Regions from separate parts of the Homo sapiens genome. Here regions 2, 3, 4, 5 and 6 are each reported to be linked to region 1. The links are microRNA targets in miRTarBase. Many come from high-throughput screens and were not tested one by one. Region 1 holds a microRNA gene; each other region holds the end of a gene's coding sequence.
Evidence for each region. Region 1 holds the annotated microRNA hsa-miR-98-5p (UGAGGUAGUAAGUUGUAUUGUU, at 3,376-3,397, shown strand). A microRNA usually pairs through its seed, bases 2 to 8, with sites in the 3' UTR of a target mRNA and lowers its output. Matches are read on the target gene's strand: a 7mer-m8 pairs with bases 2 to 8, a 7mer-A1 pairs with bases 2 to 7 and ends in A, and an 8mer does both.

Region 1 (5,000 bases):
CAGGGTGGTATTCAGAAAAATAACTTAGACTTGTGTGCACATCATCAGGTTTATAATCATGTTCTGCATTTAATAGAGGATGCATGAAGAGGATCTCATGGTAACAGGTTGCAGGGCACCTCTGGACTTAACAGTGATCATGGTACCCACCATTACCCTACAGGTTGCTTGGTCCCTCAGCTGCTGCTGACATCCTTCAGCTGAGCAGCAGCCTTCCCCTACAAAGCCGGGGTCGGGCCCGCCTCCTGGTAGGCAACGATGACGTCCACATCATCGCCCGTTCTGATGATGAGCTGCTGGATGACTTTTTCCATGATCAGAGCACAGCTACCAGCCAAGCAGGCAAGTTTGTGTGGTGAAAGGGAGGGTAGAATTTGTCAGATTCTACTTTTTCCCTGCTGAGGAAAAGCAAGACAGTGTCTGCCCTATAGAAAACCCCCATTTTATAGGAGCCAGAACCACTCAGTGACTTAGCCATGGGCAACAAAAACTTTATTGTCTCTAGGTACTTGTTATGTTCTAAACATTGTGATAGACCTTGGGTCCTTTTAGGGAAATACTGCAATTTTTGGATCGGTGGATCAGTTAATGCTTGACAAGGCCAAGAATCTCATTCCCCTTTGCTGTCCCTACAGGAACCCTGTCCAGCATCCCCACAGCCCTGACCCGCTGGACAGAAGAATGCAAAGTTCTCGATGCTGAGAGCATGCATGACTGTGTTTCAGGTGCGTGGCAGCTTGGTTATCAGGGCAATAGTGAGCCTTCCAGAGCTAGGGCAAACGTGTGGAGAGTTGTTTCCCTGGTTCTCTGTGGCTACAAGCTCTGCCTCTTGGCTTCCTCCCTGACCCCACCAGAGCAGCCTTTGATTTTTGCCTCTTTGAAACAGTGGTTAAAGTGTCCATTGTCAATCACCTGGAATTCCTGAGGGATGAGGAGCTGGAAGAAAGGCGAGAGAAGCGCAGGAAACAACTGGCTGAGGAAGAAACAAAGATAACTGATAAAGGCAAAGAAGATAAGGAGAACAGGGATCAGAGTGCACAGGTGATTCCCAAGGGCTGGGAGGATTCATCTTTGACTGTGTCTGCCGTAATGTGGTTTTGGCATACACATGGCACCAGGAATCACTGAAGAATCCTAGAACGTTCACGTTGAACCTGGGAAATTTTTTATTTCAAATTCACCATACATTGACCTGGTTTTTAGGGGAAAGAATTCAAACCTAGAGGGGAGATTTCTCAAGTGTCAAGGGAAAAACTGGAGCCAGAAGCAGAATGGCTTCTCACTCAACAGTCACACTGCATAGTCTCTACCGCCAAGGACAGCATCAAGACAAGGAGAAAAACCTTATCTAAGTCCATGCTCTTAGTCGCCCACTTCCATTTCTGTCGGTGAACTGCCAGTGTGGGGAATCTTACCGAGATGACCCCATTCCGTCATTTGAGTAAGATCAGCCTAGGTGTCAGATCAGAGAAAATGTTTGTACTCTGAACCCCATCACCACATGTCATTTTTTCTAGGGCTCACATGTATAAAATCACTAATACAATTTTGGTTTAGAAGGAAGTTACCTACTTTTTTCTGAAACTTCTGGGACCTCAGACAGAGATCTTTTAAATGTCTGAGTAAATGTTGATAGAATTATACATTACAGTGTATCACTTGATATAAAAGGGGGAAAAACTGATAGAAATACAAAGAAATAAGACTTGAGAGTGAAAGACTTTAGTATACCCTACTCAGCAGTTAAGGAATCAGGTAGATTAAAAATAAGGGTAGTGAAGTGTTCAGTTAAAATAACAAGGTTGATCTAACAAATATCTTTATATAGAACTTTTTACCTAATACACACATTGTTTCAAACTTGATATAGGATGAAAAATAAGTGAACCTAGCCTGTGACTGAAAAGACTAGAGTGGACAAAATAAAAAATAAGCCCCATGAAGGGAAAAAATACATAGATGAAACCAAGAAATTCTTGCTAGAATGATCATGATCGTGCCCATCCCTAAGGGGTTTTTATTATCCTTTCCTTCCATATTTATTTCCCCCTCAGCCCCAAACAATTCTTGAACCTGAGTATGTATAGAGAAATTGGTCATATATTTGCACAGTGAAATGATCACCTTCCTTTGGTCACATGGCCAAAGCATTCTCCATTAGATCACTGAACTCCTAGATGGTCTGGGTGGAGGATGGTGACTATTACAGTTGACCTCTATCTTAGGTGCTTGCAAAGTCCCACATTGGTCTATCCCTTCTTTTTGCAGTGTACTGCATCTAAGTCAAATGACTCCACTGAACAGAATCTCTCAGGTAACTCTCCTTCCCTTTCTCCCTTCTTACTAATCAATTGGTTGCTTCTTTATCCTGATAGTTCCGAGTAGCTGGCCCACATAGGCTGAAGATGGACACTGGTGCTCTGTGGGATGAGGTAGTAGATTGTATAGTTTTAGGGTCATACCCCATCTTGGAGATAACTATACAGTCTACTGTCTTTCCCACGGTGGTACACTTCTTCTCCGACTGGCTCTGTTCAGGTTCTTGTTCTGGTTATTATCTACTTTGTTCTGGCATGGGTAATGAGGTCATGTGTCTTGTTCATTTCCTGACTGCAACTCTGTCCTCTGAAACAGCATGTTCATGTACATCTTTGAAGTGGCTGGTCCTTTGATGACCACCATGGTGTGGCACTTCATGAGAATAACTGATGACAGTGGTTCTCAAATGCCAGTCCTCTGTGGAAACGAACAAAATCAAGGAGCTTTAATGCCTTTTTCATAAAGCTGAATTTATTCCATTTAAAAGGCTGTTTTTGTATTTAGAGATCATATTCCTAATTCTGTGGTACCAAAATATTTTTATTAAATGATGTTGATTGGATGTTTTTTCTTACATGGCTAAACTAAAAGTTGGCAACCCCTACATTAGTCTCTACTTTTTGTTCTTTTTTTAATTAAATTTTATTGGTCCATGGAATCTAAAAGTCTAGGAACATTGTCTTGGATAGTGTGCTGTTCATGAAGGTAGCTCTCTGGGCTTAGTGGTATGACTGCCGTATGTTTCCTATTCCCTCTGATCTTCTTAACAATGGTCAGTAGCCATTTTGTGATTCTATCAGTTGGTTCATGTGATATCATATGTCTCCCCCACCCATATTTCCTCAGAACATTCTTCTGCCTCCCTACACCTGTCTCCTTTCGCACTTGAGTTGGAAAATGATTGTACCAAAGCCTGCACAATATTTTTTAAAGCAGTGAAGTAGGGTAGATGCCTTGGTACCCTTAATCTAGCAAAAGATCTTTAAAAGAGTCTGTCACCATGTAAAATGGCCTTTTGCCTGCTGCCCTTATTAGAGGATTCTGCTCATGCCAGGGTGAGGTAGTAAGTTGTATTGTTGTGGGGTAGGGATATTAGGCCCCAATTAGAAGATAACTATACAACTTACTACTTTCCCTGGTGTGTGGCATATTCACACTTAGTCTTAGCAGTGTTGCCTCCATCAGACAAAGTTGTAGATGTTCCTTGGATAATTTGGACTGGAAGAAAAGAGACATGGAAGGGGACAGATGGTGTTTAGGGTGAGGCAGATGTCATTATAAAGTGACTTGTCTTTCATTAATTGGAGCATATAATTATTTTACCTTTGGGCATGAACTCATTTTGCTATTCTTCAACTGTGTAATGATTGCATTTTATTAGTAATAGAACAGGAATGTGTGCAAGGGAATGGAAAGCATACTTTAAGAATTTTGGGCCAGGCGCAGTGGTTCATGCCTGTAATCCCAGCATTTTTGGGAGGCCGAGGCGGGTGGATCACCTGAGGTCAGGAGTTCGAGACCAACCTGGCCAACACGGCGAAACCCCGCCTCTACTCAAAATACAAAAATTAGCCAGGCTTGGTGACACTCGCCTGTGGTCCCAGCTACTCAGGAGGCTGAGGCAGGAGAATTGCTTGAACCCAGGAAGTGGAGGCTTCAGTGAGCTGAGAACACGCCACTGCACTCCAGCCTGGGCAACAGAGCAAGACTCTGTCTCAGGAAAAAAAAAAAAAAAAAAAAGATTTTGAAGGGCTGGACGCAGTGGCTCACGCCTGTAATCCCAGCACTTTGGGAGGCCGAGGTGGGTGGATTGCTAGAGCTTAGGAGTTTGAGACCAGCCTGGGCAACATGGCAAGACCCTGTCTCTACTAAATATACAAAAAATTAGTCAGGTATGGTGGCACATGCCTATAGTCTCAGCTACTTGGGAGGCTGAGGTGGGAAGATCACCTGAGCCCGGGAGGTGAAGGCTGCAGTGAGCCATGATTGTGCCACTACACTCCAGCCTGGGCAACAGTGAGACCCTGTCTCCAAAAAAAACAAATAGAGTTTTGAACGAAATTCTGACCATTTCTTGCTCCAAATAGATGAAGTGGGAGGATCAATAGGATTTTGGTAGTTAGATTTTCTGTGTACCTATAGGTCAGAGACATTTAGCCTCACCCTATATGGCCTGAAATCTTCCCCCTTCCACCTGCAGGGCACAGAAAGGATTTTATTCTTAGAATCCACAGAGTCAGAGCTCCAGTTCTTGCATTCTTGGGACAGAGATAGCACTGTGCCTTAACCTTCATCCTTAGTATACCAGACCAGAGATGTTCCTTGGAGTATTTTTGTTGTGGGGATGATCACTGGCTGGGTGGGATACTTATCAGGCCACATTTGCTGATTGGGGTGGCTCCCCTCATCATTGGCTGGTTGCCCCTTAACCACTATTATTGTTCTTTCCGAGAAAGATGGGACGCCTATGCCTGACAGCTACCCAACAACCCCATCTTCAACTGATGCAGCTACATCTGAGTCCAAGGAGACCCTTGGCACTCTGCAATCCTCACAACAGCAACCAACACTCCCAACCCCACCAGCTTTGGGAGAGGTTCCTCAGGAGCTGCAGTCTCCAGCTGGAGAAGGGGGCAGCTCTACACAGCTATTGATGCCTGTAGAGCCAGAGGAATTGGGTC
Region 2 (5,167 bases), not on the chromosome of region 1:
TTATTACATATATATATATATATTTTTTTAATCTAAGGAGATACTTGTCCTAGGAGTCGATTTTTCAAGATGTGCCGCCTCTTAAGCTAGAGATGCAAAATGTTTTATTTCTCAACATGAAGCTCTTTCTCCCAAAGTGACAAATGCTAGTGTCTTTTGAAAGTTGTAGGAAACTTGGGGAGTTTGGAAGACTTGGAGATTTAGTCCTAACCAATATCTTCCCTTCCCTTAGCCAATTTTAGCTACCATATTTTGTTTACAGTACTTTTACAGTTGACAGAGATTTTAAGGACGTGAATAAAGAACCCATGAAATTATTTCTGAACCTGTTTATCTGCAGAACTGTGGGATTGAATTATGATTTCTAAGGTCCATCAGAACTTGTAACACTTTATTGCTTTAAAATTAATTCCCATGGAATCATGGCTTTCAGAAAATACCATTTTAATATTAGAAGCAGTTTGATGTGTCTGTACATCTAGACCTGAACATGTGCCTATTAAAATAAAAAATAGGTGCTTGGTTCCGAGTCTGGATAAACTATAGGGATGCCTTAAAAATAAGTAAATGCCTCTTTTTTTATTATTAGAGGCTGACAACAAGTTTTTTTTTTTTTCTCTTTGATTACAGATACTGTGAGAGTCGACGAAGGGTTTTGTTACAGCATGTGCATGAAGGCTATGAAAAAGATCTGTGGGAGTACATTGAGGACTGAGAATGGCCCTGCATAAAATGAACTCTGAAAACTTTACCATCTAGAGTGCTCATGCAATTAAAACAAAACAAACACAAACAAGGAGGCACTAAGCCTATTCTGACACCACTGGTCTGTAGTACCAGAATTGTTTTGTTAATGGAAAGTTTAAGTAAATTATATTGTAATAAAAAGGTAGATAAACCATTGTACAACAGTATTCTAGGCCACCAACAAAAGTGTGACAGACACACTAAAAGCCCTCCAACTTTAACTTGTAACGTAGCTTCATTCTCAAAGCTGACTCCTTTTTTTTCTTTTTCCTTTTCCTGAGTGTAGTACAGTTAAAATTTCAAACAGCTCCTTGACACTGCTTTTCATGTTCAAACCAGCCATTTTGTTGTACTTTGGTAAAGGACCTCTTCCCCTTCCTCCCCTACACATACAGATACACCCACACACAGACTGACTCTCTTTCTCTCATACCCCAAGGTCATGAGTGAATGATGCTTAGTTCCTTGTAAAGAAAATCTTGGGATGGGGAAAGGGGTAGGCAGCAAGAGGATTCAACAAACGAAAAACATAAAAACTTTGTATATGACTTTTAAAACAAGAGGACAACACAGTATTTTTCAAAATTGTATATAGCGCATATGCATGGACAAAGCAAGCGTGGCACGTGTTTGCATAATGTTTAATTACAAAAAAATATTTATTCTTTAAAAATCTTCAAGATTATGTCTATTTGCTGTGCATTTTCTTTCAGTTTGCTTATCTTTCCCGGGTTGGGGTTGGGATAAAGGTGTGTCGGTTTAGCACCTCTGGAAGACCTATCTAGAGCTCTTTCACTTTCCTGAGGTTATTTTGCCCTTTCTGGTGTTGGTATGTCTGTTGCCGGCCATGGGCCTCATGCCTTGAATTCCTGCTCTTGATCAGGGACAAGGGAGGTCAAGCTCTGACTAATGCCATGACCTGATTAAGGGGTACAGCAGGGAGTTTTGTTGCTACAGCTCATGAATTAACCTGTCCCAACCTAATCCCCCTCCATGGCATCATGCCTCTACCCAAGCCTTTGTGTGCCCATGTTATGCACACAGCTGTAGGCATTCTTAAGTCCCCTGTCGCATCCAGTGGAAGCATTTTAAAATTTCTTTTACTTTTTGGTTTTCCCTTAATTGCTGCTTTTCAGATTTTAGTTATGGCTCGTCTGCTCACCCCTTCTCTACATTAGGGTGTCAAAGAGAATGTTTTGCTTTAAATATAAATAGCCATTCATTTAGTCTCAGATTGTGAATTTAAAATGGTGGATACCGAAATTGCTTGTGTGTGTTGCTGTGGGTTTGGTTTGAAGGCAAACACCCCTAGAACATGATATTCCCATCTAGTGCATTTAAATAGAAATCACTGAGTTTGCTGCTTTTTTATTGTCAGCAGATAGGAGAATTAATAATGCATTTTAGCTGTGATGTCCATTTTTATGAAATTCCTACTAAGAGCTATGTTAAAAGTAAAGGATGGTGGTGGTTGTATTAACTATATACCTGTTTAGGCCATTCTGGCTGTGGTATTTTTCAATAGGTCAGCATCTGTAAATCTGTCAGTTTTATACAGGAGTGCAGAGTGAACTAGGCAACTAGATTAAGAGGTCTAAATATGAAATACCAGTTGAGGCTGAGGACCTCTTCGTCTTCCTTTAAATGTCTTTTGCCTAGGGAGTGTTTACCATTTGTGAGGCAGCTTTGTCTGCTCTTACACTGTACATCCTATTACTCCATTGGGAAGTAGGTTCACTTTCCTCTGGCCTTTTGCCTAAGTTAGGCTTTGCTGAATCAACCCTACTTTTCCTTTTAGAAAAGGTTGTTACAGGAGATTTACTGGCAACTGTTCTTTTCCCATCAAAAATCAGTGAATGTTTGCTGAGTATAAATGCTGCTTCCTTAAACCACTTGTCGCTTTAGGATCAACTTTACCTGTACCTTTTCTCCTTTCCTCCCTTGCCACCTCAGGTGCAAATCTGAACTCAGTGTCTGCTTCTTCCATTTTCTCGTCTCTCTCCCCTCTTCCCCCATTATCCATATGACATTATTTTACTTCAAATGACAGCATCAATCTTAAAAAGATATACATTAAAACTAAGGAGTTTTTTTAAAGAAAGCCTGAATAAGTTCCTTTCCCTGGTAACTTTGAAAAGCAGTCAGAGTTGCTATATAGATATATGTGGCTCCTTTAAAATGCTTTGTGTATGTGTGGTGTTTAAAAAAAAAAAATCTTACCAGTTAACTTTGCAGTGTCTAGGTTTGAGTGTCATAAATCCACGTGTTCCTGTTGCAACAAATACCCAAAAATTGTGTGTGCACTTCCTAATACCAGTCTTCACCCATGGAGGAACAGTGCTTTTTAGAGATGCTTTCTATTTCAATGTTGGCATACTGCCTGAGGGTATTGCAGTTGTGGGTGCATTCCCTAATTTGTATGATCAAGATGAACTGGCCCTTTTCTACTTCCAAGCTTTTAACAGATACCACCATATTTGACAGAATTCCCAGAGTGAATTGCTTGTGTTATTAGTAGATTCAGTGCCCCCAGCTGGGATAGGCAAGCCATGACAGCTTCCCTGTTTCACCTACAGAAGTCTTATCTGAGGGATCTATTCACAGTAAGCACCAAGGTCTCCATGTCTTGAGGTCAGTTTCATTGTCTTTTGAAAAGTGCATGCTTCATTTGAACAATTCATTCAGCAGCAGATGGACTTTCAGTGATTTAAAATAAAATTTTGATCCAAAGCTCAGGACACAAACCACAGTGGTAAAATTGAGTAGCATATAATATCAGACTAAATTATCTGTAATTTTCCACAACCCAGATTGTATGTGTTTTATGTGTGTTTAAATAAATATGTTAGATACACGTGTATACATACACCCATATACAACAGATCCAAGACTGGCTGACTTCATTTGAAATGGTTGAATCTGCTGTGTAATAAAGTGGTTCAACCATGATTAGGAACTGAAATTTAGTAGAAGAGGGAAAAGGAGTTAATGTAACAAATTATTTTAGCTACAAACCCCGGTAATAGAGCACTTGGGGGATGGGATGGGGTGGGTTGGTGAGACAATCAGAATGGTAAATTGATTAAATGCTCCTAACCCTGTAATTTTGTGCATAGAGCACCCTATGCTGTGGAAATAACTGTTCTTAGATTTCATTGTAACTGGACTGTTCAGGTTGCCCAGAGGGAAAGAACATTCCTAATTCTAATAAAATAAACTTTTATTTTGTTATTCCATTAGTTACTTATGTTTATTTTTATAGTTAAAAAATGACTAAAGGTGGCTAATAGCCACCCGTATTATGTGCCTTATTCACTGTTCCCACTTAATATAAAATGTCAAAAATTGGTTGTTTCTTTGCAGGGAACTGTGAATGAGCCCATTCCCCCAACATTTAACTTGGTTAATGAAGCTTTCAGAGCATTTTCTGAAAGATTTCCAATTTCTGCATCTCAGATATTGAATTTAAATTGTTTGTGTTGTAACAGTGATACAAAAATGTTCAATAGCTCTTTGAATGCCACTTTTTTTAAAGAAAATACTTTAAAAGTCATTCTTAGCTAACCTCAAAACTCCTTTACATTACTTTCATTTTAGCTCACTCTTAAAGCTGATACTGTTATATAGGGATGAAGGGAGAGTTTTCTTAAAGAAGGTCCCAAAGTTGAAGATCGTTTGTCATTGATACTCTGGCCAAGTCCAGGTTTTAGGACAATTTAATTTACTCTTATTTGGATCTGTAATTATGGGAGTTTATCACTTTTCCTCTTCAAAGCACTTCAACTTACTGTCTAAAACAAGTGGAGAAGAAATTGCCATTTTTTATAAAGGAGGAAGATAAGGCTCACTGAGGTTAAATAACTCCCTCAATTTTTCATTTCCTTCTACCTGAAACTTAACATCATGCTACCTCTTTGTATCATATTTTGTTATTCTGGTCACAGAATGACCTAGTATTCTGTACCAGGGAAGGTAGTTCTTAACTATATTGTACTTTTAAACCACATTAAAGACTATTATAAATGCCTATCACTGCTACTGTTAGAGGTTGCTCTATACTATCTCTGATCTTTCATTTGTTGCAGTTTGCAACACAGTAGTTGAGAATAAGTGGTTTAGTATGATTTGCTTAATAGTACCCAAGTAATTTGCAGTTGTTGGTTTAGTTATTCAAATGAATTTCCATTGTAAAGAATTTTGGATAGTCTGCAGGAAATTGTTACAGGATGCACAGAACATCCCATATCCATTGGATCTCAGCCTTTGAGGCTTTAAAAAGATGATAAGCAGTGAGTTTTATGAGAAAATTTTGGCTCCTTCAGAAACAGGAAGATAAGTGGGCCCCTCAGATTTTTCATATATCTTTGGGGATAAAGTTGGTTATATCTGGTTTATTTTAGGGATTTTGCTTCTGTAGTTA
Region 3 (5,167 bases), not on the chromosome of region 1:
ACTCCCTGTGAGGCTGAGTGGGGTCCCCACTTGCAGGGTTTGCTCAAGGCCACTCACCGGCTTCCCACCTCCAGGCCTACCTTCCCAGGTCCTCCCTCAGGCTTCCTGGGATCAGCTGCAGCAAACAACATGTCCCCGAATCCCTGTCTGCTTTCAGAGACCCAAACTCTGCCAAGGTTCCACACTGGCTGTGACTGGAGCAGATGTCTCCACCTTCTGGATACGAGTGTCCTCATCTGTAAGATTTTCCTTGTGCTAAATCATGGAAATCTTTCAAGAAAATCCGGGCTTTAAACACTTTCAATAGAACAAAAGTCGTCCTAAACATTTGCCTCTGTGCCTCTCCACATTCTGTTCCTTATTTCCACACTGTTTAATCAGTGCGTACACGCTGTTGTGGGTTCAGGGAGGTCCGGGAGGGCAGCTTCATGTTTGTTGATTGAATGAGCCCCAACCAGCTCCTTCCCAGATATCTGAGTGGCCCTTGGGCTCTTCAGCCCTCCCCAGAGGGTCCTGCTCTGCTATACCTAGGATGGGAACCTCCCACATGGAATCTGGAATGTTCTCTACAGGTGGGAAAACTGCTTTGCACATACAAGTGAGGCCTAGGGCAGACAGCTTCCCCATGGAGGGGAGAGGAAAATCATAAATAAGAACACTACAGCCCGGGCAGCCCATTCCCCAGGGCCAGGCGTGAGCAGAGCGCTTTCCACGGCCCGTCCCACCCAGGCTTGACAGCAGCCTCACGAGGTCCCCTTAGCTCCCAGTTCTCACACAAACCAACCGAGGCTCAGAGGGGTGAAGGGGCATTGCCAAGACCCACAGTTGGTGGGTGTGGGAGCGAGGAGCCCCTGTGCGGTGGAGCGGGACACGCTCGCCTGTGGAACAGCAGGTCCAGCATCTGTGGGGTGGGGGCAAAGCTTCCACACGTGCCCAGGAAAGCAGGAACGAGGAACGGTCGCTGCTCTGCCCCCAGGTGACGCTCTAGCTTCTCTGTGCAGCCTGCGTGGGGACTCCCACCCTGCAGGTCTCATCCAGGAACAGGGCTGACTCATTTTCACTCTGGGGTGAGCCAAAGGGAGGACGGCCCAAACATATGAACATGAACAAAATGCAGTCGCTCATCGCCATCATGTGAATTGGAGAAGTTCAGGAAGAATTTCTGGGCTATTCCTTCCTATAGGAATATGAAAAGTCACTTTGCACCTGGCCAAGCTGGGGCTGGACGGTGGTGGGGTGAGGGCGGGAGGAGGCCTAGGGTGCTGGGATTGGGACTTGGGGGCTGCTGGAGAGGCAGAACTCTAGCAGGACCCTGGGAGCCACCTGGTGACATCTGGGCAGGAGGCCTTCCCAGCCATCCAGGGGCCCTGGTTGTGGAGACCTCCCCTGCACACTTGCACCCCCAGCCAGCACTGGCCCTTGTTGGTGTCGAGGAGTCCCTGTCCCTCACTTGGGGAGAGAGTGGGGGTCGCCCCCTTGGCCAGTCTCCTGCGTGGAGCTCTGCAGAGACAGCGACCTAGGAACATCAGAGCCCGGCCCGGCCCTTGTCACTTCTGCCCACCTGACCTTCTGCTCTCCGGATCAGGCACAGAGCCGTGTCTGTGTAGACCTCCAGCCAGGATGACATGAGATCCATCTCAAGGGCTGGGGCCCACATCAGCAGAGGCCCACATCAGCAGAGGGCCCACATCAGCAGAGGGCCCACATCAGCAGAGGGCCCACATCAGTAGCTGGCCCAGCTGGCCTCAATCCTCATGGGCCGCTAGGCTCCTGCCCCAACACCCTGCTCTTGCCCAGGGCAGGCTCTCCCCTCTTGTCCCCTCCCCCCACACACCCAGGGAGGGTTGCGGGGGATCAGAGCGGAAGCCTGGCCTGTGCTGACCTCAGGGCTGCCCTGAGCTCCTCCAGGCAAATAGGGATCTTCCGGGCCTCAGGAGTGGGAGTGGCCCAGCCTCGGCAGGGCTGGAAAGGCTCCTTGGCCCTCCCCACCCCACCCTGCCCTGAGCCAGCTCTGCCAGGCCCATCCTCTGGTGGCTGCCTCTGGTCTTCCCCACCATCTGGGACACCAGCTGGTCCAGGCACAGCCTTGCCACAGTCCAGAGAAGGCCACCTCTAATGGGGCCTGCAGGCATTGTGGCCACAGGAGGAAAGGGCCGGGGGGCCCCTCTCCCCACTCCTGGGGCAGCTCCCTTGCCCTTCCCCAGCCTCAGGCACTCTCATCATCTCCGTTGGCCTCTTCTGGGGGCTCTTGGGGTTCATCTCCAGGGTGGAAAACTTGGAGGGCCCCTCCTGGCAGAGTCAAGGATGGGGTCAGCGAGACCCCATCCCCTCAGCCCTCAACCTTTGTTTCACCCAGAGCCCCTCTGAATCCTGGGAGCTGGCTCTTTCCACTCCCCGAGGGGGCCCTCAGGCCCACCCTGGCTGTCCCAGCATGGCCCCCGCGGCTTCTGCGCTGCACCCTTCCCGTCCCTCCCTGCTCCTCATGGTCACTAGTGCCTGCTTATCCACTGGGTCATCCCCTCGGCCAGGGCCCCTCCTGCCCTGGAAGCCCAGCAAGCGCCCACTCGTAGCTCCTCAGCGGGTCCTCGCCGGCCTGTGCCAGGTGCAGGGGCCAGTGGGAGGACAACAGGAGCCACGCAGGCCATCAGCGCAAGGTAAGGGGGACCGGTCGGGACCCAGGGAGCCTGCCCGGGCCTGCCAGCCCCCACCATTCTTACAAGGCGCCTTGGGTTAGCCACAGCTCTGCCTGGGCTGCTCCCCTCCACCCGGCCTCAAAATTAATGACCCCAGAAGAGACCGCCCCGTCCCTCCTGTAGGCTTGTGCCCCACTGTGTCTCCTGAGGTCCAACCCCTGGAGCTGCCTGCAACGTCCTCACTAATGGCTTAGCAGAGAAGGGCCAGGCCTGGACCCAAGCTACAAAGGCCTCTCCCAGGGAAGGATCAGTCGCAGCTCCAGGGGCACCTCCTGGAAGCCCCCCAGTCAGTCCCCAGTGTTTGGTACTCCTGTCTCATCTCCAGGGTCCTGGCTCCCCGCAGCTGGCCTCCCCAGCATGGTGGGACAGGAGACCCAGCTCAGAGTGTCTCACCTGCCCACCCTGAGAGGGATTCTAGGGGGAGCCTTGGAGGGGCCCTCACTTCACCTGCCTTTATACACGTGCATCTTCAGACTTCGGCTTTGCAAATTAAAGCCATGCTGGCCAGAGACCAACCTGAAGCTCAGCTCCCTGTCCCGACCAGATCACAAACCTGTGACAAACCTGGGGACACCTACCATGAACCCCTCACCAGCCTAACCCTGAAGGGACAGGGATAGGCGCTGGACTCCAGCCTCCCATTGCCCTGTGCCGCTCCTGCAGGGCAGGCCTCACCCTACCCAGGGCACCAGACTCCACAGGGCCCTGCTGCCCAGACTCTGCCCAGAGACGGCTCCTTGGGTGGTCAGGTGCATGGGGGGCCTATGTCCTAAGCAGCTCGGGATGGGGCTGGGAGGAGGCCGCAGCTTGTTCCAGGAACACAGCTGTATCCCCACAGGTGAGGGATGTTAAGCGTCCCTGTCAGCAAGTGCCCGTCTTTCCTGAAACTGGGTCCACACCAAGCCTGTTCTGCTGAATGAGGCTGGCCGGGCTGTGGGCTTGTCACGAGCTCCACTGCTGAAGACGGTGCCCTCTAGTGGCAGCTGGCACCTCTGCTGACCTCATTCATGCGCCTCACACACACAGTGCCCGTCCCATCTCTCATCACTGGGGTCCCAGTGTGTGCCTGAAGAAAAACCACACCACATGGATGAAAGCAAACCCACTCGAGACAGAGCCCCAAACTCCAAGTCTCATTTTGCCCAAATCTGAGTTTTATTTTTGCTGGAATCAGGTCATCTGGCCTGGCTGTCCCACCAACCCAGCTGGGAGCCTCTGAGTGGCCTGCCAGCAGCATCTCATTACAAAACAGCCCCCTGGAACCAGGTAGCCAAGGAAGCGGCCCACCTGAAAGGCATTTAGATTGAGAAGAAAAACTGCACCTTCCTGACAAAGGTCAGGGGTCACGGTGAAGGGAGGGCTGCTGGGATCACAGGGACAGCAGCATCTTCTAGCAGCTTGGCCATACCAGCCACTGAGGTCCTAACTGCAGCCAAGGGGCCGTTCTGCACATGTCGCTCACCCTCTGTGCTCTGTTCCCCACAGAGCAAACGCACATGGCAACGTTGGTCCGCTCAGCCACTGGTTCTGTGGTGGAACGGTGGATGTCTGCACTGTGACATCAGCTGAGTAAGTAACAACGACTGAGGATGCCGCTGACCCAGGGCTGGGGAAGGGGACTCCCAGCTCAGACAGGCTTGGCTGTGGTTTGCTTTGGGAGGAGAGTGAACATCACAGGGAATGGCTCATGTCAGCCCCAGGAGGGTGGGCTGGCCCCTGGTCCCCGGGCTCCTTCTGGCCCTGCAGGCGATAGAGAGCCTCAACCTGCTGCCGCTTCTCCTTGGCCCGGGTGATGGCCGTCTGGAAGAGCCTGCAGTAGAGGTGCACAGCCAGCGGAGAGTCGTCATTGCCGGGTACAGGGTAGGTGATGAGGCAGGGGTTGCAGTTGGTGTCCACGATGCCCACTGTGGGGATGTTCATCTTGGCTGCGTCTCTCACGGCCACGTGTGGCTCAAAGATGTTGTTGAGCGTGTGCAGGAAGATGATGAGGTCCGGCAGGCGGACCGTGGGGCCAAAGAGGAGGCGCGCGTTGGTCAGCATGCCGCCCCTGAAGTAGCGAGTGTGGGCGTACTCGCCACAGTCACGGGCCATGTTCTCAATCAGGTACGAGAACTGCCGGTTGCGGCTTATAAACAAGATGATGCCCTTGCGGTAGGCCATGTGGGCGGTGAAGTTCAAGGCCAGCTGGAGGTGCGTGGCTGTCTGTTCCAGGTCGATGATGTCGTGGTCCAGGCGGCTCCCAAAGATGTACGGCTCCATAAACCTGCCAGAGACCCCACCAAGGCAAGGGGGATGAGAGTTCACGGGGCCATCTCCACTGGCTCCTTGCAGGAACACAGACGCCCACCAGGGACTCCCGGGCTCCTCTGTGGGGGCACTATGGGCTGGGAAGCACAATTTGCAACGCTCCCCGTGTGCATGGACAGCAGTGCAGACCCATCCAGGCCACCCCTCTGCATGCCTCGTCTCGTGGC
Region 4 (5,167 bases), not on the chromosome of region 1:
GCTTCACTTTCAGCGTCCTGCACGTGGTGTTCGGCCGCTTCTTCTGGATCGTGCGGGTCGTCCTGTTTTCCATGTCCTGCGTGTACATCCTGCACAAGTACGAGGGCGAGCCGGAGAACGCGGTGCTGCCGCTGTGCTTCGTGGTGGCCGTCTACTTCATGACCGGGCCCATGGGCTTCTACTGGCGAAGCAGTCCCAGCGGCCCCAGCAACCCCAGCAACCCCAGCGTGGAGGAGAAGCTGGAGCACCTGGAGAAGCAGGTCAGACTGCTCAACATCCGTCTCAACCGGGTGCTCGAGAGCCTGGACCGCTCCAAGGACAAGTGAAGGTCAGCCGGCCGGGCGGGTCCACAGTTACCAGCACGCTGTCTCAGAAAACGAAAACGGAGGAAAAAAACCCCAAACCCCAAACAATCTTAATAAACACGACTGAGCAAGAAAGTGGCGCTGTGTAGGGCTATTTCCACCCACCCGGCAGCTCTTAGGACACATTCCCAGAAGAGCGGAAAGATCATTGACGTGGAACTACACACGAAGTGTAATTAGTGGGGGAAAAAATATTTTTTAAACAAAGGATATAACCATATTTAGTTGTACAGTAAGAGAAATTTATCTGTGCATAGAGCATAAAGTTAATTTTTTCAAGCATTTAAATACATCTTTTGTAAGGTTTTTTAATAAAGGCAGATTGAGTCAAGTTTATTAAAACTTTACATGGAGGGGAAGAATATGCTAATTTGACATTTGAGAAAAGTTTAAATGCGAGCGTTTGTTTTCACAGCTTAGGGATTGGTGGGTGAGGTCTGTGTGCGTTATTTTCATGTTCCCAAACTGTGAGCTTTATTTCATGTTATTTTTGGTGGATGTTGACTTAGTTCATGAATGTTGTCACTTCTAAATGTGGACAGTTGGGCTGCAGGATGCAACTCAACCTCTTTTGGATCCTAGAGACCCCTGCCAAGCCCCCATCAGTCCTATTTTTAAATGAAGACATCGCCATTTCTAGAAGACCTGAGATTTTCTTCCCTCTGTGCTTCGATGTATTTTAACCTCAACATTTTGAAACGGAAAATGCAAGGAGGGGCCAAGAAATGTCCTGGGGATTTGATGCCAGGAAGTACCTGGTAAGGATTGGAGATTGCTCCAGAATCTACTGCATGTCCCAATTTGCAGTTTGCTCACTAGGGCTATATACAAAAGCTATACCCTTGAGGGTTTTTTTTTTTTTCTTTTGATTTCCTCAGGACCTTAGAGGGAAAACAAACAGTAGCAGCTAATATTCTCAAGTATATTGCTGCTTAGAAAGATCCTCAGGAACAATTAGCAGCAATAAGCAAGCCTTTGAAAAGATCTGAATTCTTTTTCCTGAAATATTTACGATACACAGGTGCTTTTTATCTGAAATCTGTTGTGTCCTCCTTTTAGGCAGTCTCTGTGGGCAGAGAGTGGGACTTGCGAGGTGGACAGCTGTGGGGATCCTGGGCAAGGGAGTTTCAGAAGGTGTGGCTCAGGGGCTGGTAGAAACCCCCTTTTGTTAGGACTTGTTTTTTAAAAAAGAAAGCCCTAGGCCAGGCGCAGTGGCTGATGCCTGTAATCCCAGCGCTTTGGGAGGCCGAGGAGTATGGATCACCTGAGGTCAGGAGTTCAAGACCAGCCTGGCCAACATGGTGAAACCCCCGTCTCTACTAAAAATACAAAAATTAGTCAGGCATGGTGGTGGGTGCCTGTAGTCCAGCTACTCAGGAGGCTGAGGCAGGAGAATTGCTTGAACCTGGGAGGTGGAGGTTGCGGTGAGCCGAGATCACGCCACTGCACTCCAGCCTAGGCAACAGAGCAAGACTTCATCTTAAAAAAAAAAAAAAAAGCCCAGCATTTTGCAGCTTTGAAGCTGCTGGGGATCACGACTGTCTCTGTGGCCCTTACCTGGCCACAGATGTACCCTGGCAACCCGCTCACAGTGCCCTGCGTGCAGGTTTATAGATAACCCCTGCCAGACCTGCTACAACCAAGACCTTATGGTCCAGGTCTCAGTTTGGAGAAGATTTAGCTGTCTACCACTTCTTGTGTAGTGTTCCTGTGAAGTTTTATTTTTGGTTGCAAGTATCTGGAAAACAGATGCAGATGTTTTTGTGGATGTTGTTGAGACTTTTGAGACTTCTGTTTCTAAGGTACACATGATGGGACCCAAACTCTCCTGGAGAGTTCCATTCACTTCCTGAAACGTGCACCTGTTTCAGGTGCATGTTTATTCAGTGTGCATGGATATTTAAGATTTGCTGGAGCAGGCTGGGCAGGGTGGCTCACCCCTATAATCCCAACACTTTGGGAGGCCAAGGCAGGTGGATCACCTGAGGTCAGGAGTTTGAGACCAGCCCGGCCAACAGAGTGAAACCCCGTCTCTACTAAAAATACAAAAATTAGCCAGGCCTGGTGGTGGGCGCCTGTGATCCCAGCTACTTGGGAGGCTGAGGCTGGAGAATCGCTTGAACATGGGAGGCGGAGGTTGCAGTCAGCTGAGATCATACCACCACACTCTAGCCTCAGCAACAGAGTGAGACTCCGTCTCAAAAAAAATTATTTGCTGGATCGAATCTTTTTTTTTTTGAGATGGAGTCTCACTGTCAACCAGGCTGGAGTGCAGTGGCACCATCTCGGCTCACTGCAAGCTCCGCCTCCTGGGTTCACGCCATTCTCCTACCTCAGCCTCCCAAGTAGCCGGGACTACAGGCGCCCACCATCATGCCCGGCTAATTTTTTATATTTTTAGTAGAGACGGGGTTTCACCGTGTTAGCCAGGATGGTCTCGATCTCCTGACCTCGTGATCCGCCCGCCTCGGCCTCCCAAAGTGCTGGGATTACAGGCGTGAGCCACCGCGCTGGGCCTAGATCAAATCTTTATCCATGCACATTGGAACACAGGATTACTGGGTTGAAATCATTCTAGTTTTGTCATTTAGATACTTGTAGATGAATCTATTTTAGCACAAGGTATAAATAACTCGGGAGGTCATCTCTATCTTCTTTCCTTTTGTGCATTTGGCTATACCACGTTTAGGTACTAAAACAGCTTTGCTTATGTTGGCCAGGGGAAAACATGGCATTCTGTGCGCAAAGCTAATGATCGCCAGCCCTGCCTTGGCCCCTCCCTTGTTTATGGTCATTGTAAGATGCCCGCATGTTAAGGCTTAAGCTGTCACTGGGCTGGGTGTAATACCCGCTTCATTCCTCCTCCCACCCTCTTACCCGAAACATGAAGGGCACTGTGCTCTATTGAGATCTCGATAAGATCATCATTTTAACTTGTATTCAACTGAGGGAGGTAACATGATATCTGGGTGCTGGTGGATTGAGACCTCAAGCATCAATTCAAAATTGCTGTCGAAAATATGCACTATTTTTTTTTTCCACTCTGGCTAAGTGTAGGCTCTGAAGCCAGTTTTATAGCTTGATACATTCTGGTGAAAGATGTCTTCATTTTTAATGAAAGAACCTACAGTTAGTAGGTGTCACCTCAGGGTAGAAATTCTGATAGAAATTCTGATTATTTGAAACTCTGATAGAAATCCTAGATGCTAGATTTGAAGAAAACCTGGGTTTTATTGCATAGATTTCACCTTTTCTGGGGCACATCTTACCCCAAAATAATTGGGGATTTTTTTGTTCCTTCTCCATTCCATGGAACCTTGTAGGGTGTTGGGATTGGGCCTCCCCTCGCCACCCGCCACATGTCTTTGTTTTTTTCTCTCTTTTGTATGTGGAAAAATGTATTTTTGTACCATATCTCATACCTGGAGAGAAACCTTTTTTCTATCTTCAGGGCTGTAGAATATATTAGCGTAACACTTCACTGAATGTGACGTAAAAGCATTCTGATGAAAACTGGTTCTGTTATAATTAAGACTCAGTGTTTAAAATATCTTAATCAGTGTTAATTTCCCAGTGTTTCAGTATCACAGTAAATACTTGTTTTACTGAGAACAGAAAATAATCCAGAAAAGGAAAAGGACCAGCCCTCTCTAGATTGCTGGAATTGTATGGATGTGTTGGGGTTGGTTTAGTGATCTCTTCCTTGACACCCTAGCAAAGATGCTTTTGTGGAGTGCAAACCTTTCATAAATATACTTTCCAGGCTGGGTGCAGTGGCTCAAGCTTGTAATCCCAGCACTTTGGGAGGCCAAGGCGGGTGGATCACTTGCGGTCGGGAGTTCGAGACCAGCCTGGCCAACATAGTGAAATCCCGTCTCTACCAAAAAATACAAAAAAAAAAAAAAAAAAAAAAATAGCCAGGTGTGGTGGTGGGTTCCTGTAGTCCCAGCTACTCAGGAGGCTGAGGTGGGAGAATTGTATGAACCTGGGAGGCAGAGGTTGCAGTGAACTGAGATCACACCACTGTACTCCAGTTGAGGCGACAGAGTGAGACCCAGTCTCAAAAAAAAAAAAAAGTGTGTGTGTGTGTATATATATGTATATATATATACACACACACACACTTTCCAATACCAGTCGGCATTACCCGCCCTTTGGTTTCTTTTGCTTTGGATTTCAGCCCCCATATCATTTCTGGTAACAGAGCACAGCAATAGAATTTCTGGGAAGCAGACCTTGTGAATCGTGCCTGTGTCTTAATTCACAAAGGGTAAGTGAATGCCGTTGAAAGGTGTTTCATACACTTACCCCAGAAATGAGAGCCTGTCTCATGCAGGAGTCGGGAGGCAGCGATGTCAGGGAACTGGGACTATGTCTTTATGACTGTGATGGTGGTAACCAAGTGGGGTGGTCCCCTCTGGGGAGCTGAGTAAGAACGCAAAGGTTTGGGTCAGTGATTAGGAAGACTATAATATGACTTTGTGCATGCCCGGGAGGGCTGCCTTGTAGAGAGGATGTGAGCAGCTTAGTCGCTCATCTGGCCCTGTGATTCAGGCTTATGGAGCGTTAAGAATAACAGCTGTCAAATGGCCTAGACATGGTTAATGCAATTTGTTGCTAGTGGAAATCCTGAATTGCTTCCTTTCTGTGATCACTGCTACTTCTTAAGATGCTTTTGATGAATGTCATCTGCCTTACAAGTTGACACCTGATAACTTCTCCCTGATGGGTTTCCGAACTGGCTGACTTAACCAAAAAGCCAGCTCTTGCCATCTATCTTGCATTAAAAGGAATTCCTGAGG
Region 5 (5,167 bases), not on the chromosome of region 1:
TGTGGCCACTGCTCCTGGGAGTTCTTGCTGAACTGGAAGTGGGCTGATGCCTTGCAGGGGCCTGAGAAGAACTGAGGACAGTGAGCAGTGACAGCATCTAAGTGATTTCGGCGAGTATCTAGCCCCAGCCTCAGGCTTGGGCAGGCTGGCCTCTGTTGTTGCTGAGTTACTGTGTGTCATCCCAGGCCCCTCCTGCTAAAGTGCAGTCAGAGACCAAGCCTCTCAAACAGGGCCACTAGTCCAGGGCCCTGGGGAAGACAGGACCCTCCTGGGAGCCGTCTGCTGGCTTGCATTTGCTGTGCAAGGCTGCAGCCTGGCGCCCCTTTGGTGCATCCATGTATAGCAGCTGGGCTGCCCGGGCCCCTTCCTTGGCCTGGCCCCACCCTCCCCTCTTCTGCCTTAGCTCCAGCAGAAACACCATGTATGCTTGTCTCTCTCCACTTCCCAGGTTACCATGAAAATGGAGTGGTGAAGGCAGAGAACGGAACCTCCCCACGGACTAAGAAACTCAAGTCTCCCTAAGGCCAAAGTGCTAAGAACAGGAATCCTCTTGGTGGGGGCCGAGCAGGGGGCAAGGAGCCCAGGCCCCCTCCCTGCCTCCTCCTTCCTGCCTGTGATGCTCCGTCTCAAACAGCCGAAACCTGTCTTGCAATGGGGGGAGGGGGCGTTTCGCTTTCCTTCTTCTTGGCTTCCTCTTATTCTTCCACAAACCATTCTCAATAAAGCCAAAAATCTTTCTCTTTCTCCCCCTCAGGCCACCTCCTGTCCTCACTCCTGTCCTGTGCTGGCTTTTCTGGAACGCCAGGCGCCCATGGCTGGCACCTTTCTGCTTGCTCTGTCTCTTGCCTTATGGCTGCTGCTTTTCCTTTTTACTTCCTATTTTCACCTTATCTTGCAATTTTTCTGTCTGATTTTTACAATGGGAGGGGAGCTAAGATTGCAGTCCTGTCCTTCGGTCCCCCAGGGCCTGCCGGTCAGAAGCCTGGGGCTGGTAGGCCCTTGGTGGTCCTCATGTGGATGGGCAAGAAGAGAGCGGCCATCTCGGATCATAATCTCCTTGGTGCTGATTAACTGACGAGATATATGATTCCAGTTCTGCATGTACCATCTTGAGGCACAGCAGCCACTGCTCGTTGTAAATGCCAAGGCATTTGGCTTTGGGACGTGACAACTCAATCCAGAAGGATGGTGTGAACTCGGTTGGGTCCCGTGACTCGAGCTCCTACCAGTGGCTGGCCGCGGATTGGAAGCCAGCCTGCTGTCGCTCTGTGGGGGGGGACACGTCTTCCCACTGCTTAGAGCGAGAGCAGAGCAAACTGCGCAGCAGGCACCTCCAGAAAGGTAATGGTGGCAGAACCCACAGTGGAGTCGACCTAGGCCTTTCTCCAGCAGTCCCAGTCGCCATTGCTTTTTCAGCCATTCACAAGCATTCAAAACCAAACCAAACAGCAGTTCATATACCTGCCTGAGATAGGCTGGTCCTCACCTCCAGAGCCAGCCAGCCCCGTCAGGGGCCAAACTTACTACCTTGACTTCATCTCTAGCTGCAGAAACACTAAGTCTCAAGGGCTTCAGCCCCATGCTGGTCCCTTGGTGTTCAGGGAGGGTCACTTGGACCGCTGTTCATCTGGCCGCCCTTGTTGAGTGTTCTTTGGAATTGTCGTTTTTTGAGCACAACTACAGCATTTTAGACTGCATGAAACCATGACTGACTGAGAGTCACTCTCTGGGTAGATGATAGGCGCCTTTCTGGCCCCTTCCCTCACAGATTCTTTCCCCTCCCCTCCACCTGAAGAGAAGGCCTCCAAGTCCTTTTGGTGCCTTGTGAGGACTTTTAGAAGGGGCGTTCAGCTTTAAAAAGCCGGTCCTAATTACGGCCGGACGCAGTAGCTTACGCCTGTTATCCCAGCACTTTGGGAGGTCGAGGTGGGCAGATCACCTGAGGTTAGGAGTTCAAGACCAGCCTGGCCAACATGGTGAAACCCCATCTCTACTAAAAATACAAAAAATTAGGTGTAGTGGCAGGCACCTGTAATCCCAGCTACTCGGGAGGCTGAGGCAGGAGAATCGCTTGAACCTAGAAGGCGGAGGTTGCAGTGAGCGGAGATTGTACCATGGCACTCCAGCCTGGACAACAAGAGCGAAATTCTGTCTAAAAAAACAAAAGTCCCAATTAAGAACCTCCGAACTCTGTTTTGAGGCAAAGGGGAGTAGTTCTTGGTAGGTGCAGGAATAGTAGTGTCATTTGGAATACTGGTCATCTTTCTGACATCACAGTAGAAACCAAACCTTGGATTTAGATTCAAAAGGGGGGAAATGGGTCTTTTCATCAAGGCAACTCCCCTTCTCCAAGTCACTTACATCATAGATAAATTTTAGCTTCCCAGTAACTGAGGGATTTGTTTCCTAACGCCATTGGAGGCCTTCATCCCTCTCTACGATAAGGTTGCAGAAATGGGAAGAGCTACCCGTGGTTGCTTTTGATTACCCTTAGGAAGTGAGACAGTGTTTTTGAAAATATGTATTTCCCCCATTTCTCCCTCTCCTTCCCTGACACTTCTCTGGGCTGCACAGCAGAAACGTTGGTAAAAGGGCAGTTTGGTTTCAACACAGCAGACCTGATATGGGATCCCTTAGCCACTTTAGTCAAACAGCCCTGACAGAGTCTATAATTGAGTTCAGGCCCCCCACCTTGCCTAATAACTGCAAATCGCATGTTCAGCCAGCAGCCTCCTAAGCCCACCTTCCTCCCCCATTAGAGAACACCCATCCTAGGTGCTCTCCAGGCTGTGTCATTGGCAGGGCTTCACATGCAGGAGGCCTCTCTCAGGTGAGTCCAGGTTAAACTGTTGAGTTGTGGCTTCAACAGATATGTATGGCATGCTGGGATGTGCCAGGTGCCTGCGTTGTGCCAGTTGCTGGAGAGGTAGTGTGAGCAGAGCAGCTGAAATCTTGCCATCAAGCAACCCTCATTCTCATGCCTGTAGGTTTCCATTGCTCTGTCCCAGGACACTTGCGTGCCAGAGACGCCACAACTTCATGTCCCTGTCTCTTGCAAGCTCCCCGTGCTGCCAGTACTTCATGCCTTGGATGTGGTCCCACCAGCCCAGTGGCCGGGGTCAGCTTAGGCTCTGCTTCCCAGTGGACGGGTGTGCTAAGGGTTTATTTTATGTAAAAAAAAAAAAAAAAACAAAAAAAAACCCTGAGACCATGAGTGGGGCTGGCATCTTGCCAGCCTGGGCTTCAGGGATGTTTGGGGGGGGTGGTTAGAGGGTAGTTGTAGGGTACTTTGTCACCCCCCTCCCCCTGCCACCCTCCCTGGCACGTTTATTTCACAGCAGAGCCAAGTCTGTGGCAGGTTGACACAGACTGTGTTGCCAGAGCTGAAATAATTCCACTTCATCCTATGAGCGTGTTGGGCTAGCTTGTTCTAATTTTGGCCACTTTGGCTGTTTTCTTCAGTTTTATGCATTCTCTCCTGCCCCAAAGTGCCAAGCCATTTGTGAAGGCTCTGCCAGACACCTCCAAGCTTGAGAGCTCAGCACCATGCACCAAGAGCAGGAGAAAAGACGTAAACCTACCCCAGCAACTGTGGCCTCTCGACAGCCCTGGCTAACTAACTTACATTTGTGGGGAAGCCAACAGACACAGCAGGAGGAGAGGGAGGTGGCGCTGGTGGACCAAGGATCTGTGCTACCCGCTCCCCTCCTTGGAGGTGCAGTGATGATGGGAGTTATTTTTACCATCCGGGCGCTGATAGCTGCACTATTAATAAATTGCATGTGTTCCTTTTGAAGGTAGGGGATGGTTCTGGGTGAGAGGGGAGCAGGCTGAGCCGGCGGGGGATCTGCTGTCCTCCCTTTTGAGTCAGTTCTAATCCCATGTGTGTCTGGGCCACCAGACCGAAATGGTTGCTGAGAAACTTGTCTGTTCATGTCCCAAGGCATAACTTCCCAACATTTAAGAAACCCCAATAGACACCTCTGCCCTGGCCACGTTCACAGATCCTTCTCTTGACCGGAAACCCTGGGACCCTAAGAACCCCTGAAGCTTGGGGTGGGTGTGTGCTTCTGGGGTCTCTTTTGGGACCTCCTTTGTCAGTACCCCTTCTTTTTTCTAAGCAGCTAATAAGAGGTTGGGTGAAAGAGTGCATCTCCTCCCAGGATTCCACAACAAAATTCTTATCTTCCATGGATGCTTTAATTGGAAGTGGGTTGCCGACCCCCTTGTGCCTAGAAAAGGCCTTCGCTTGGGTTTCCTTTGTATGCTTCAGCCTTCCTAGTTGGTTTTTCTAGGCCTGGTGTGAGAGGTAGGGAAGTCTGCACATAACTAATTCTTTTGCTTAAGGGCCTATGGCACAAGTGCACAAACTTCAATTCTTGATGTTCTAAGCTCTCTCCTCTAACAGAGGGAGTGCTGAAAGCTTTTGAGTCAAGACAATGGAGTGCTCTTCCTCCCTCACTCTGCCTTCCGAGCTTATGGTTCCTTTTCTCAGGAGAGGATTTTCAGGATTATTGGAGGATTAGGTCATTGTCAGATGACTGGAAAACCTAAATAGGATCTCTCTCCAGCTCAAGGTTGTCCCAGTGAGGAAGACTTTACCAACTTCTCACTCTACCCCACTACTCACATGAGTGTTAGCTCCACCTTGCAAAGGCTGAAGACCAGTTCTCCCCAGTGAAAGCTGCCTCATTCTTTTATGGAGTTCCCTGGAGTGGCAGAGCTATAAAGACGAGCATTGGGATTTGCAGTCTCCATGTAGCCTTTCGTGCTTGGCAACCCCTGTAGACTTTTTGTCCCAAGCAGATTGCGTGCGTGCGCCTGTGTGTGAGAATAAGTGCCTTACTTTGCTGTGTGGTTTTCAACTTGTACTCCGTGGCCAGCCCCCAGTTGCCAGGGCTCGACGGCAGCCAAGGACACCATACCTCAGTATAGTTATATATAAAAGGGACACGGATTGTGACAGTTTCACCCCATTTGTTTCTAACCCCGCTGCCCAGGATTAGGGTCTGTGGTGTGTTCTGTTTTGTTTTTGGTTTCTCCCTTGTGTCAGTTCTCTTCTGGCCCAGCTGGGTGGCTGTGGAAGTCTGTGAGGTGGCCCAACCACAAGCATACCTATTAAGAGAAGCCCAGAGCTTCCAGCCCCCACTTCGAAAACTCTCCTCTG
Region 6 (5,167 bases), not on the chromosome of region 1:
GCGGAGTCAGGGGACATTTTTACACACCCACATTTCACATTCCCTGAGCTCGCCGTGAGCGAGGGGTGGCCCTGCTCCTTCACACACCATGACCTGTCCTCCTCCCAGTGGCAGTCCCAAGTCGGAGCATTTATTCCCATTTCACAAATGAGATTATGAAGTTCCCTAGAGGGTGTCTGTCCAAGATCACATGACTTGTAAGAGGTCAATTCAATCACTGGCCTGGCTTAACTTTAAGTTCTTTTTTTTTTTTTTTTTTCTTTGGGAGACAGAGTTTCGTTCTTGTTGCCCAGGCTGGAGTGCAGTGGCGCGGTCTCGGCTCACTGCAACCTCCACCTCCTGGGTTCAAGCAATTCTCCTGCCTCAGTCTCCCTAGTAGCTGGGATTACAGGTGCCCACCACCACACCCAGGTGATTTTTGTATTTTTAGTAGAGATGGGGTTTCGCCATGTTGGCCAGGCTGGTCTTGAACTCCTGACCTCAGGTGATCCACCCACATTGGCCTCCCAAAGTGCTGGGATTACAGGCGTGAGCCACTGCACCTGGCCAAGTGTACATTCTTAAGAACAACGTACATAGATTGGGGAAAAGTATCTCGTTTTCATTCTGAGAGCTAATACAACAGAGAGTGTACGAAGAGGTCAAACACAGGGACTGCTGGGTGGAACACACTGCCACTCCCCCTCCCCCTCCCCCTCTGTGCCACACACCTGATGTGGCCCCACCCAACACAGCCACGACCCTCCTACCCCCCACCACCTGCCCAGTGTCCTCTGAGTCTCAGCCCAGCAGAGGGAGCAGGTGCATGCTCTAGGCACACACAGGGTACAGGAGCTGGGCGAGGCCAACCATGCCAGCCCCTCGCTCCACACCCCACCGGCTTCCATCCTGAAAGGTAATACACACACGCACACACACACCAAATTCCTGTGTGGGTTTCTTTGTTAGAAAGATCATCCCACTCTGAAAGATGGGGGCCAATGGGAAACAGTCTGCTGGCTCATGGCTGGACCCGCTGAGAGAGATGGTCTGTCTCCCATCCCCATTTCCATCTGGACAGTGCTGCCTGCTAACTCGGATCATGTCAGAATGGTGGAAGAGTCTCTATCCCCACAGGGCTCAGGGACCCTTCCTCACCTCACAGGCCCAAGGGACATGACCGCCTGCCATGTGCATTCGCTCACTCATCAAACAGAACCAGGAAATGAGGTCTCACTGTGCAGAGCCGAGTTTCGTGGGAAGAGCCCGAAACACACTATCACACATGCCTCTCTGAGGTCCACAGCAGCCCACTGTCGTTTTCTAGAAAATCTGATCAAAAAGACTCCCCTGCTTAACACACTTCCAGGACTTCCCATCACACCGGGTAAGGTCCAAAGCCCTCGCCAAAAGAGGTGGTACCACCGGGCCACCTGCTGCCTTTCCCCACCTGGAATGCCCTGGCCCCCTCCTCTCTCCTGTTCACTCTGTTCTCTGTACCTGGGACACATCTGTCACCTCCCTGCCCCCAGCACCTGCTGTTCCCTCCACTTGGAATACCATTCCCCCAGACCCCCAGGGCTGGCTCTTCTTGTCCTTCAGAATCAACTCAAGCCCCACCACCTCAGAGAGGCCTCCCCCAGCAACTCGATCTCAGCGCCTGCGCAGCCTCACCACGCCCGCCTGTCTCCTCACTTGCTTACTCTGCTTCCCAAGGAGCCTGTCTGTCGTCTTCCTCACTGCCACATCCCCACTGCCACATTCCCACTGCCACATCCCCACTGCCACATCCCCACTGCCACATCCCCACTGCCACATCCCCACTAGCTAGCACAAAGCAGAAGTTAAATAAGTATTTGCTAAGTGAATGGATGGATGCATGAATCATCCAGGCAAGTTAGTGGAGCTCTCCGTGCCACGTTTGCCTCATCTGTAAAATGGGGCTAGCATAGTACCCATTGGGTGAGGATGAGAAGAGACCACAGAGGCACCTGTGTTCAGGCACCATGCTTGTGACAGGGGTTCTAACAGGGCATAAATGCAATGCTTTTGACACACAAGGGCAGGCATGACTGTCTTCTGCATGAGAAGAGGGGATTCCTCTTTGGCTCTGGAAGAATGAGTGCCAGATCACAGATGGAAGACGGGATGAGAACCACGGGCTGGGGGTGCTGGGAAGTAGGTGATTCAGGGCGGCTAGTGGGGAGGCAGCAGGGGAGCCTCAGAGGAGGCTGCAGGCGAGGTGGGGCCAGCTCACCCATTTGCCTCAAGGGTCATGGTCTGCACCACACCACAGGGAAGGCAGCTAAGTCTGCCACCTGCTATGGTTGACTGGCTTGGATTTTACACCTGTAAGGAGGTGACTGTCCACTAGGCTGCTGAGGTCAGTTCATAGAGGAAAGGAAAACTCACAGCCAACACCTGGACCCAAAAACATCTGCACTGACCTCTTTCCCAGCCAGGACACAAAAAGGTTATCTCTTTAAATGTGCATTTGTCCTGCGGCCAAGAGGCTGCTGGCACAACACATCCTTCCGTCACAGCGCTGGTGCTGCCAATCAAGCTAGAAGGACGGCCAACCCCAGCTTCCCTTATTCAATCCCCCAGGGACAGGGGAGGGGAGAGAGTGAAGGCAAAGGCTGTGCTGGTGCCTGGGGGTGGGGGCAGGAGAGCCTTACACAAACACGAACCCACACTGGGACATGTAGGCACCTGCCACCTGCTCAGGGGCTCATCCGACCCCAGGTTCCCCTAGAGCCCATGCCCCAGCTTCTGACGAGAGCTGGGCCTCCAGACTGCATAGCTCTGCAGCCTGGCAAGAGGTGTAGCGGTGGTCCTGATGCCCAGAGGGGTTTGGTTAAAGCTGTTCTTTGGTAAGACAGTGGGGGCTGGGCCGTGGAGGAGACTAGGCTGCTGGCCTCTTCCCCACATCTGGGATGCCGGTCAACTTCCCTCCATCTGCTTCACTAAATGCTGCCCACCCTTTAAGGGCAGCTGCCCTCAAGACTACCCTTCCCTGAGTCTTCTGCACCTTGATCTCTCCAGTCTCTGAGCGCCTGTGGCTTTGAGGATCACTTAATAGTTTTCCAGTCGGCCCTAGTGAGACTGCAAGCTCCTATGATTAATAACGACGTACATTTAGTGAACACATTTATGTGGGGCACTATGCTAGGCACTGTAGATACGCGAGGTAGGTTATCGTTATACAAATTTTACAGATGGGGAAACTGAGGCACAGTGAAATGAAATAACTTGCCCCAAGGTCACTCAGCTAGTCTGTAGCTTGTCTGACTCCAGAGCCCTCGCTCCTAACCACACTCCAAGACACCTCTTCGATGCTGTCTTACTTATGTAGTCCCATGCACTATCTCCACGAGTGCCAGACACACGGTAAACATAAACACCCCTAGGTTGAATCTTCCTTCCCTTTCTGCTCTAGGCTACTGGATCTGTGGTTCCTATGAGGGAAGATGACCCCAAAGAGCCACTAGGTGGCAGCAAGCAGCCAGATTCTGGCCTCCCCATGGGAGGGAGGGAGGCAGGGAGGCAAGGAGGCAGGGAGGGAGGAGCTCATTGTTAGGTGTATTAGTACAGCTTGCACCAGGCGCTTCACAGACTCCATCTCTTCCCACTCTACAGAGAGGAAAGGATACTAAGGTTCAGACAGGTTGACAAATGCCCAAGGTCAGGCAGCTTAGAATGCTAGGACCGAAGCCAGGAATGGCAAAACTCAGAGCCCATGCCAGTTCTCAGGAGAAATAAACCCAGGAACCCCTTCAGCTGCATATCTAAGTCTAGGCTCAGGGTGGGGTCCACTCCCCTCCTCCACCCCCGGGGAGCACAGAAACTACCCCTCAGGGAAGAAGTTAGATGGTGCAGGCTGGCTCTGAGGAGGCCTCCACCTAACAGGCACCCTGGCTGGGACAGAGTTTGAACAAGCCTCACAAGCACCAATGGCTCTCGGGGACCAGCGGAGCACCAGAGACCTCTCATCAACCTCCTGGCCACAGCCAAGAGGACACTGGTGCACCCAACCTCCCGCCGAGACTCCTCAGGCCGGCCTCAGCCCTGCCGCCTCCTGCCCTCCCCGCTTCAGGGTCCTTTGATTTGAAACCAGTGCCCCCAACGTGGTCACGGAAGATGGTCATGGAATCCACATCCATTGAGATGGACGGAAACTATCCAGAGAGTTCTGACAGTGTCCCCGTCCAACAACTGTCACCGCCACACCTAAAACCCACCCCCCAGGGGATGGGGCCTCTCTGTGTGAACCGTCCTGGGAGTGCAGCAGGGGCGCACGTGGCTGTGGGTGCGTGGCCCATGCATTCATCGGGCCTCACGGCGTGGCCAGCACCACAGTGCAGGGGCTTGAGAGGTAGCACAGGGACTGTCACATCTTCAGTTCCAGGGTCCGGCGATGTTCCTGGCTGAGTCCATTGGGACGCTGGCTTCAGAACTGCCCGGGGTACGTCTCTGAGCACTGCTTCCGGCCTGCCTCCCAGACGGCCCCCTTGCTCCCCCAGTCCCTCCCGAGGCTCACACAGCCAGACCAGGTCCTCTGAAAATACACAGCATCTTGGGTTTATTTGGGGTTGGGCACCTCAGGTTCAGGCACAGTTTGTTCCTGGGTAGAGTCACAACTGCTCCTCTCAGCTCTCTTGGCACTTCAGGGGGCTGCCCCTGCAGGTCCCCTCCCCACGTCCCCGTTTCCTGCACACACGTCTCTTCCCCCCTCCCTGCTCCCCGAGTCTCTCATTCTTTCACCAGCCTGTAGATGTGGTGCTGAGCCCCGTGCTCACTGGCTGACACCTCAAAGACATAGGCAATGCACAGCAAGGTCTCCTGTGTGTCTCTGTTGGTGACCACCTGTGGGAGAGAAAAAGACAAGGGTTAATAAGGCCCCAGAAGGGGCATGCCATGGCTGCTACCCACACACAGACTCCAGCCACACCCGCAGCACCCGCCGCACACCTGCAGGATGGTGAAGTTCTCCAGCACGCTGTTCATCATGTACTTCTCAGGGAGGTGCTTGAGCTTGTGGATGAAGTTGATCATGTACTCACAGAGCGGGGACCGGTGGATGCGGTAAGAGTAGTGTCCATTCTCATAGCGAGCATACTCTGTCTGCAGGACCCGGGGAGAGCAGGGGCTTAGAATCCCATTCTGACCACCTCCAGCCCAGACCCAA

Region 2: miRTarBase lists ARIH1 as a target of hsa-miR-98-5p. Seed matches in the 3' UTR shown: 7mer-m8 at 4,654-4,660.
Region 3: the mRNA of MRPS2 is a reported target of hsa-miR-98-5p. The part of its 3' UTR that is shown has no 7-base or 8-base seed match.
Region 4: the mRNA of BRI3BP is a reported target of hsa-miR-98-5p. Seed matches in the 3' UTR shown: 8mer at 2,694-2,701.
Region 5: miRTarBase lists TRAM2 as a target of hsa-miR-98-5p. Seed matches in the 3' UTR shown: 7mer-A1 at 4,923-4,929.
Region 6: the mRNA of TEAD4 is a reported target of hsa-miR-98-5p. The part of its 3' UTR that is shown has no 7-base or 8-base seed match.

Annotation. Positions count from the first base shown.
Region 1 is chrX:53,554,696-53,559,695 of GRCh38, reverse strand. It overlaps MIR98 (microRNA 98), which reads left to right and starts at 3,355; the gene lies at 3,355-3,473. It overlaps HUWE1 (HECT, UBA and WWE domain containing E3 ubiquitin protein ligase 1), which reads left to right. Exons shown (of 84, transcript NM_031407.7): 57 at 164-342; 58 at 636-725; 59 at 887-1,041; 60 at 2,269-2,314; 61 at 4,776-5,000. MIRLET7F2 (microRNA let-7f-2) reads left to right here and starts at 2,422; the gene lies at 2,422-2,504.
Region 2 is chr15:72,582,578-72,587,744 of GRCh38, forward strand. It overlaps ARIH1 (ariadne RBR E3 ubiquitin protein ligase 1), which reads left to right. Exons shown (of 14, transcript NM_005744.5): 14 at 631-5,167. The coding sequence ends at 715. MIR630 (microRNA 630) reads left to right here and starts at 4,640; the gene lies at 4,640-4,736.
Region 3 is chr9:135,503,331-135,508,497 of GRCh38, reverse strand. MRPS2 (mitochondrial ribosomal protein S2) reads right to left here. Exons shown (of 4, transcript NM_016034.5): 4 at 3,827-4,956. The coding sequence ends at 4,365. It overlaps LOC101928525 (a long non-coding RNA gene), which reads left to right and starts at 2,051. Exons shown (of 3, transcript NR_121579.1): 1 at 2,051-2,654; 2 at 4,179-4,262; 3 at 4,797-5,167. RefSeq lists an enhancer at 2,159-3,132 and a silencer at 4,161-4,315.
Region 4 is chr12:125,025,105-125,030,271 of GRCh38, forward strand. It overlaps BRI3BP (BRI3 binding protein), which reads left to right. Exons shown (of 3, transcript NM_080626.6): 3 at 1-5,167. The coding sequence ends at 326. THRIL (TNF and HNRNPL related immunoregulatory long non-coding RNA) reads right to left here and starts at 2,319. Exons shown (of 1, transcript NR_110375.1): 1 at 339-2,319.
Region 5 is chr6:52,498,552-52,503,718 of GRCh38, reverse strand. TRAM2 (translocation associated membrane protein 2) reads left to right here. Exons shown (of 11, transcript NM_012288.4): 11 at 449-5,167. The coding sequence ends at 522. Among named protein-coding and RNA genes, the nearest start is that of TRAM2, 76 kb to the left of the region's middle. RefSeq lists an enhancer at 4,571-4,620.
Region 6 is chr12:3,040,043-3,045,209 of GRCh38, reverse strand. TEAD4 (TEA domain transcription factor 4) reads right to left here. Exons shown (of 13, transcript NM_003213.4): 12 at 4,951-5,103; 13 at 4,534-4,845. The coding sequence ends at 4,732. Among named protein-coding and RNA genes, the nearest start is that of TSPAN9, 35 kb to the left of the region's middle.